Linked DNA regions of Homo sapiens: region 2 is linked to region 1. The links come from fine-mapping of genetic effects on gene expression. A gene starts in region 1. The other region holds a variant in brackets. All regions are shown on one strand. Distances are from middle to middle.

What was found. PIP is the estimated chance that this variant, and not a neighbour inherited with it, causes the effect. A credible set is the group of variants that fine-mapping cannot tell apart.
Region 2: its variant is the best candidate, but not a certain one, in a credible set for the expression of CTSW in whole blood (INTERVAL, PIP 0.50).

The regions. Positions count from the first base shown.
Region 1 is chr11:65,877,918-65,882,300 of GRCh38, reverse strand. CTSW (cathepsin W) reads right to left here and starts at 2,464. Exons shown (of 10, transcript NM_001335.4): 1 at 2,360-2,464; 2 at 2,015-2,099; 3 at 781-894; 4 at 1-126. The coding sequence starts at 2,446.
Region 2 is chr11:66,506,247-66,510,629 of GRCh38, reverse strand. DPP3 (dipeptidyl peptidase 3) reads right to left here. Exons shown (of 18, transcript NM_130443.4): 18 at 973-1,551. The coding sequence ends at 1,379. Among named protein-coding and RNA genes, the nearest start is that of BBS1, 2.2 kb to the left of the region's middle. RefSeq lists an enhancer at 84-133. The variant C/T (reference allele first, on the strand shown) is at 1,525.

The DNA of each region.
Region 1 (4,383 bases):
CCACCTTCCGCCAGTCACAGCTGAAAGGTACTGACTCCTCTGGCTCTTCAGACCTTATTTCTCTGCCCATGCTGGGGACCCCTCCAGCTGCCCTCCGATAGCCATAGAGCTGGCCAAACTCCTCCTCTGGGGAACAGACAGGGCCACTGAGGTCTCCATTTTGACCCCTTCTCCCTGTTCTGCCTCTCCCACTCCAGCTGTTGGTCCCATAATTCCCTGAGGGGCAAAAAGGCAAGGATAGGCCGGGCGTGGTGGCTCACACCTATAATCCCAGCACTTTGGGAGGCCAAGGTGGGTGGATCACTTGAGGTCAGGAGTCCGAGACCCCATCTCCACAAAAAGTAGAAAAATTAGCTGGGCGTGGTTGTGCGGGCTTGTAGCCCCAGCTACTTAGAAGGCTGAGGGGTCGGGGGAATTGCTTGAGTCTAGGAGGTGGAGGCTGAGTGAGCTGTGATTGCACTATTGTACTGCAGCCTGGACAACAGAGCAAGACCCTGTCTCAAAAAGGCAAGGGTGCCAAGCCTAGAGAGGCTGGGCTCCCTGCTGGGTGCTTCCCTGCAGCTGCTGCGCTGGCCCCTAGGCTGGATTAGGACACAGGACTGCAGAGATTCTGCCCCTGCACTGGGTGATTTGATACCAGCACCCAAGCCCCTGGTCCTCAGGGAAATGAATTTCCTTCCCTGGGAAGTAAAAATTGAAGGTCCGCTGGGTCCAGCTGCCAGTGTCCCTGGGGAGATCGCTTCCCAACCACCACCTACGAGCCAGAAGGGTTAATGGTACCTGTGAGGTCACTGAATGGAGTCACCCCAAACTCAGCTGTGCCCAAGTCCTCCTCCTGCAGCCTCTGAGCCTGGGCCAGGTTGTGGGCAAAGATGTCCAGGCGGTGAGCATGCTCTGGACCAAAAGGGAGTTGTCCTAGGCTGACTCCCAAGCCCTTAGGGGCAGGAAGTAGCCGCTGGCTGGGCACCCTTCCACCCACACCCACCCAGTTGAGCACTGGCTCCTTTCCTGTAGCCCCCACAAGGCCCCACTGCAGATACCCAGGCCCAGGAAGTGGTTACCCAGCCCACCGAGGGTTGGGTTTTCCCCAGAGGCAGCCAGAGGACCATCTCTGGCCACCCTAGGTGGGAAGCCAGGCAAGGGGTCCGGTGGTGGTGACTCAAGGATGTGTGGCTGGAGACCAGCTTCCTGCCAGGCCACGTCCTTTACACCTCTGACCACAGGAGGAGAGCTGGAACATGGCAGGGAGAGGAGATGACAAGGCACAGGCAGTCTGGGCTAAAAGGCACACACAGATCAGCCCCCTAGAGAGATCAGCACAGCGAGAGGGCAGGGGCAGGGGTTAGATCATGGGCTAGAGAAGAAGTCCCCAATGTGGGGACAAAATGGGTGTCCTTGGGTGTTTGCTGAATGAGCAAATGACTAGGTGGTGGCCCCCTGTCCACTGCCTAGAATCGCAGGGAAGTGGCTGTGGAGCCAGGGGATCACGTAGGACTAGGGCAGGACCCCACCTCCTGCCACTGCCCTCCAGATCCATAGCAAAGAATGATCCTGGACCCACTCATGCCTTCGGGAAACCAGGGAACACACCCCCAGCCCTGGCCTGTCCTGCTGAGTGGCCTTGGCCATGCCTGTTCCCCACCCTGAGCTTCGATTTCTTCATCTATTACAAAGCGGGATGGCTGGGCTCCGTGGCTTACACCTGTAATCCCAGCCCTTTGGGAGGCCGAGGCAGGCGGATCACCTGATGTCAGGAGTTCAAGACCAGCCTGGCCAACATGGTCAAACCCCATCTCTACTAAAAATGTAAAGGTTAGCCAAGTGTGGTGGCGCATGCCTGTAATCCCAGCTACTCAGAGGCTGAAGCAGGAGAATCGCTTGAACCCGGGAGGTGGAGGTTGCAGTGAGCCAAGATGACACCATTGCACTCCAGCCTGGTCAACAAGAGTGAAACTCCGTCTCAAAAAAAAAAAAAGTGGGGGCTTGGACTGGAGATGTATGTGCCCTGTGATACCTTCTGGGCTCAGGTAACTCCGGTTGAACTGGATCTGGAACAACTTGAAGGCCTCTTTCAGCTCTAGCGGCTGGGGACCTAGGTCCTGGCAAGGAACCAAGGGTGGAGAGGGGCAGTGGGCAGAGGAATCATTGCTGGGGCCCCACCTTAGTTCCCAGCCGTGCAAGGACTGGGCTAGGGGTCAGCCAGTTAGCCTTTTCTGTCTTCCCATGTGCCCTTGGGCACGTCAGCCCCCTCTCCAGCCTCAGCAACTCCCTCTGAAAAATGAGAATGACAGGCCAGCTGTTTCTGAAGGGGTGACCCCAGGCGTGGGACTGGCATAGGTAAGGGTTTGGGAGCACTTACCTGGGCCCTAAGGGGGCCTCTGATGCCTTGGGCTAGGCCTGCCACCAACAGGGCCAGGAGGCAGGAGGGGTGGGCAGTCAGTGCCATGCCGGTGCAGTCTGGAGTGGCATGGAGGCAGGAAGCCGCGCAGATCGAGGAGGACGGTGTGAGGGTGGGGCTGGAGAAACCACGAAGGGGAAGACAGGCTTGGTGGGTGGAGGGTGGACCCCTAGAACCCACAAGTTGCTCAGGCCTTCAGGCTTTCAGTCCCTGCCTGTCTGCTCCCCATCCCACCCCTTTTTCTTTCTTTCTTTCTTTCTTTTTTTTTTCCACCCAGGTTGGAGTGCAGTGGCATGATCTCGGCTCACTGCAACCTCCACCTCCCGGGTTCAAGCAATTCTCCTGCCTCAGCCTCCCGACTAGCTGGGACTACAGGCATGCACCACCATGCCCAGCGAATTTTTTGTATTTTCAGTAGAGACAGCATTTCACCATGTTGGTCAGGCTGGTCTCCAACTCCTGACCTCAGGTGATCCACCTGCCTCAGCCTCCCAAAGTGCTGGGATAACAGGCATGAGCCACTGCGCCCAGCCAAGGGAACCACTCTTGCTCATCCTATGAAGCTCAGTCAGCTCAATGGCCGCCTCTTTCAAGAAGCCTTCCCTGCTTCCCCAACCTCTGGTAGAAGCTTTGCAGCCCCTTCAGCCCAGCTGCACCTGTGCCCATTGGGCATCTGCCTCCAACCACACCAGAAGTGTTCAGTTCGCTTGTGTCCTCGGTGTCCTCGGTTCCCAGGATAGGGCTAGGCATGAGTCAGGCTCGCTAGGTGTTTGTTGACTGAACAATTGATCATCATGAGTTTTAAACAGGAAAGCAGGCCGGGCATAATGGCTCATGCCTGTAATCTCATCACTTTGGGAGGCCAAGGTAGGAGAATCATTTGAGCTCAGGAGTTGGAGACAAACTTGGACAACTGAGCAAGGCTTCATCTCTACTTAAAAAAAAAAAAGTTAGCCAAGCATGGTGGTGCTCTCCTGTAGTCCCAGCTACTGGGGAGGCTGAGGCCAGTGGGATTGCTTGAGCCTGGAAGATTAAGGCTGCAGTGAGCTATGATCATGCCTCTGCACTCCAGCGTGGGTCCAAGATCCTGTGTCAAAAAAACAAAACCAGGCCAGGCACGGTGGCTCACGCTTGTAATCCCAGCACTTTGGGAGGCCGAGGCGGGTGGATCACCTGAGGTCAGGAGTTGGAGACCAGCCTGGCCAACATGGTGAAACCCTGTCTCTACTAAAAATACAAAAAAGCAGCTGGGCATGGTGGCGGGCGCCTATAATCCCAGTTACTCGGGAGGCTGAGGCACAAGAATCACTTGAACCTGAGAGGTGGAGGTTGCAGTGAGCCGAGATCGCACCATTACACTCCAGCCTGGGCAACAAAAGTGAAACTCCATCTCAAAAAACAAAACAAAACAGGAAAGCGCAGAGTCAGAGTCCGGGAGCAGCAACTGCAGCCAGTGCCTCCCGTTCCTCATCCCTCCCACGGTCTAGGGATGAGGATGAGGGGGCTGAAGAGCCAGAAGGATAACAGGGTGAGCATCACAGACGGAGGGAGGCCAAAGCCTGACTTGTGAGGTCAAGGGCTGGGCAGCAGCATTAACACCCGTTACTGCTGCCTTTGTTCTAAGTGGGTCCTTGGGCTGGGGACCTCCCCTATAGGAGTTCAGGCTGAGAACTGGTGACCAAGACCAGAGAAGGGTGTGAAGAGCTGGCTTTCTAGGGTTCCATGGGGTGGGAGACAGGACAGCTATAATCCTGGGATTTATTCACTTACATGCTCACTACTGCGTTTCTTTTTTTTGTTTGTTTTTTTGAGACGGAGTCTCGCTCTGTCGCCCAGGCTGGAGTGCAGTGGTGCGATCTCGGCTCACTGGAACCTCCACCTCCTGGGTTCACGCCATTCTCCTGCCTCGGCCTCCCGAGTAGCTGGGACTACAGGCACCCGCCACCACGCCCGGCTAATTTTTTGTATTTTTTAGTAGAGACAGG
Region 2 (4,383 bases), 630 kb before region 1:
CGCCCTCGCGTAACGCCCAATAGTGCCCGAGCACAGGGAAGGGCGAGTACAAAGGTTCCGGGCGCCAAGCTTTCCCACCCAGGCTCAGGAGGACGCGCTGGCCACCTTCCTGGGTTGAGGAATCTGTCTCAGATTCCTCAAAGATATTTATCTTTGCTCCTTCCCAGTCAGAGCCACCTTTCCAGGCGTCTGGGTCCTACAATCTCTGGGTCAGCCACAGAGCCCTCTGGCTTCCAGGGTTGGAAAGAAGCCCCTTCTAGCATTTATGAGCAGCAAAAAGAACTCCTCCTGTCTCCATCTTCATGGTTACCCGGTTGAAAAGGACCATGTCCTGCCTTGCTGCGTTACTGTAGAGGTCCAGGCCCAGAGAAACAAAACACGAGGGTTATGGGACAAATGCAGAGGATTCTGACTGAAGTTGAGTTTGTAGGTTCCCAGAACTTTTTTTTTTTTTTTTTTTTTTTGAGACGTAGTCTCGCTCTGTCGCTTGCGCTGGAGCGCAGTAGCGCGATTTCGGCTCACCGCAACCTCCGCCTCCCGGGTTCCAGGGATTCTCCTGCCTCAGCCTCCCGAGTAGCTGGGATTACAGGCGCATGCCACCATGCCCAGCTACTTTATTTTTTAGTAGAGACGAGGTTTCACCATATTGGCCAAGCCGGTCTCGAACTCCTGACCTCGTGATCCCCTCGCCTCGGCCTCCCAAAGTGCTGGGATTACAGGCATGAGCCACCGTGCCCGGCCCCAGAACATTTAAAAATGCAAGGAATGCCACAAAGGAGAGCTGCAAAAATTGTGCTATGTTCAGCTCTGTGACTGCGTATCCTCATCTAGAGATAATGTCAACATCCTGTTGTGGAAGGGAGGCTAAAAATGGCCCTCCTTGCCCCCTCCCCAGGCCTTGAGCCCATCACTCTGCTGGGAGTAAATGAGAAGACAGGCAAAGGCAAGGAGGAGCCACACACGCCGCAAAGATGGTGGTTGTCTCTAATATTTATTTGTCTGGTTATAAAATTAATATGTGAGGAGCATTGGATTTGGTGAGAACGTTTTGAACCCTAGCTGTCACGTGCCACCTGCGGGATCTAGACCAGTGACTTCTCAGAACTGCCATTTCCTCATCTGGTAGACAGGATGGTAAGCCCTGTCTTGCTCACTCCACGTATGGCAGTGCAGATGAAATGAGATCACAGAGGGGAAGCAATTGGCAGGCTGGAAAGTGCTGACAAATGGAAGGGGTTGTGTCACCACCCTCAGCTGAGGTAGTACCAAGGTCCAAGCTCCTGCCCCTCCCCCTCCCCAGCCCCTAAATACACACACGAATGGAGGGCCACTTGCAGCCTTGGTCTGATGGAATTGGGGGCAAGGCCACACATCTTCCTCAAGCTTGGCCAGATGGGGCCTCACTGGGGCCCTTCCAGAATCGGGCATCGGCTGTGGCCAGCTGTGTGAGGATCTCCTCCAACTCGGGTCCATCCTCTGGGAAACGCTCAGAGAAGGATCGGATGAGGCCAGCAGCTGACGCCT[C/T]GTATTCCAGAAGCTGCACGTCTGAGCCTGGGGAGGAGATGGAGAGAAAACAGCAGGGAAAGGTCTGAATAGGGAAACTGAATCATCATAAAAATCTTAATAATCACAATTACAGCAGCAGCTGTTTCTTACTGAGCTCTGCCAAAAAAACCTGTGCTCTACGTTTTAGGTTAATTACTTAATTTACTCTTTACAGTAACCCTGTGAGGAAGGAAATACTACAGGGGGAGTATTAAATGCATTGCTGCTTTCGTTCATTCAGTCAATCAAATAAAGATTTAGGCTGGGCATGGTGGCTCATGCCTGTAATCCTAGCACCTTGGTAGGCTGAGGTGGGAGGATCACCTGAGGTCAGGAGTTTGAGACCAGCTTGGCCAACATGATGAAACACTGTTTATACTAAACATACAAAAAAATTAGCTGGGCGTGGTGGCATGAGCCTGTAGTCCCAGCTACTCGGGAGGCTGAGGCTGGAGAATTGCTTGAACCCGGGTGGCAGAGGTTGCGGTGAGCAGAGATCGTGCCACTGCACTCCAGCCTGGGTGACAGTGAGATTCCACCTCAAAATAAATAAATAAATAAATAAATAATAAAAGACACCAGGTGCCACACTAGGTGAAACAGATACAGTCCTTGGTGTCCTGAAGCTCACAATTCAGCAACGACTTCATCTGTCTACTGTGGGACCTGGGGCAAGTGTTGCAACCTCCCAAGCTTCAGTCTCCTCATCTGTAAAGGAGCTGCAGTGATGACATAGTCACACATCGAGGGGGTGCTCAACAAATGCTAGCCACCATGGCATCATTATCTCCGAACCTGTTTACTGATTTATTAAATGGGCTGTTCTGAGGGTCCCCTGAATACCCCCGGGAAGCACTGCCCTCAAACACACTTCAACTGCTCTACCCTCTCTGTGCACCTTGTCGTGTTCCATGACATCACAAGCTGCACAGCAGCAAAGAGCACAAGCTCTGGAGTTCAAGTTCTGGCTCTGCCACCCAACAGCTTTGTGACCGCAGGCAAATACACAGCCCCTCTGTGCCTCATTTTCCAGATGAAAAATGAGGATAATAACCATTTCTCTCTGGGTTGTTAGGAGTTAAGCCATAGAAAGCTTTTACAGCGACCTGGCTGGGTGTGGTGGCTCACACCTGTAATGCCAGCACTTTGGGAGGCTGAGGCGGGTGGATCACTTGAGGTCAGGAGTTCGAGATTAGCCTGGCCAACATGGTGAAACCCCATCTCTACTAAAAATACAAAATTAGCTGGGCATGGTGGTGGGTGCCTCTAATCCCAGCTTTTTGGGAGGCTGAGGCCGGAGAATCATTTGACTCCGGAGGTGGAGGTTGCAGTGAGCCGAGATCTCACCACTGCCTGCGGGACAGAGTGAGACTCCACCTCAAAAAAAAAAAAAAAAACTTTTTACAGTGCACCACCATCACAACCTTTGAAAATCCAACCTGTTCTTCAGATCTAGTGGGAACCACCCCTTCCTCCCCAGAACGTTCCCGGATACTCTTGAAGATGGATGCGATCTTCCCTCCTCTAAGTGTTCAGAGTTCTGTTTATATGTTTTGGCCACTCATTAACACTTCCCTTGTATGATTATGATGATGATTATTATTATTATTTTTTTTTTTAGATGGAGTCTCGCTCTGTCACCCAGGCTGGAGTGCAGTGACGCAATCTTGGCTCACTGCAAGCTCCGCCTCCCGGGTTCAGGTCATTCTCCTGCCTCAGTCTCCTGAGTAGCTGGGACTACAGGCGCCTGCAACCATGCCTGGCTAATTTTTTGTATTTTTAGTAGAGACGGGGTTTCACCGTGTTAGCCAGGACGGTCTCGATCTCCTGACCTTGTGATCCACCTGCCTCAGCCTCCCAAAGTGCTGGGATTACAGGTGTGAGTCACCGCGCCCGGCCCCCTTGTATGATTATTTATCTCCATATCTTATCATCCCCAGTGAGCTGTGATCACCTCCGGATCCCTAGTGGCTCCCCCATGGCTCGCACAGGGCTGGACATATCAAAGCAATTGAGAGTATTGTCCATGTGGCTGGCATGATTTATTAATGCACTCATTTGACAGTCACTGAGCAACTCCAGTGTGCCAGGCTGTGCATGAGGCACTGGGGTATGCTGCTCCTCCCATCATGAGAAGTGACCACCAAGAAAATGGGCAAGCGTGATGGGCGCTAGAAGAAAATGAAACTGGGTAGCAGAACAGAGAGGGACCGAAGCAGTTACTTTAGGTGGAGGGGTCAGAGACAACCTCTCTCACAGGGTGCCGTTTTACAAGGAGCGGAAGGACAAAAAGAACCAGACAGGCAAAGATCTGGAGGAAGATCATGCCAAGCAGCAAGAACAGCTTATTCAAAGGCTGTAGGAGTGGACCCAGCTCAGTGGGTAGAAGAAACAGAAAGGTCGGGAGACTGGAGTACAGTGAGCCAGAGAAGGGGTGGTGAGGCTGGCAAGGGTTGGGGCCAAATCCCAGGAAGCCTCTGGAGAGCATGGAAAAGCATCTAGAATGAGCGTCTTAATAAATGCTTTTTCCGGCTGGGCATGGTGGCTCACGCCTGTAATCCCAGCACTTTGGGAGGCCGAGGAGGGTGGATCACCTGAGGTCAGGAGTTCGAGACCAGCCTGGCCAACATGGCAAAACCCTGTCTCTACTAAAAATACAAAAATTAGCCGGGCATGGCGGCACGCGCCTGTAATCCCAGCTACTCAGGAAGCTGAGGCAGGAGAATCGCTTGAACCCGGGAGGCAGAGATTGCAGTGGGCCAAGATCGAGCCACTGCACTCCAGCCTGGGCAACAAGAGGGAAACTCCGTCTCAGAAATAAATAAAATAAAATAGCCG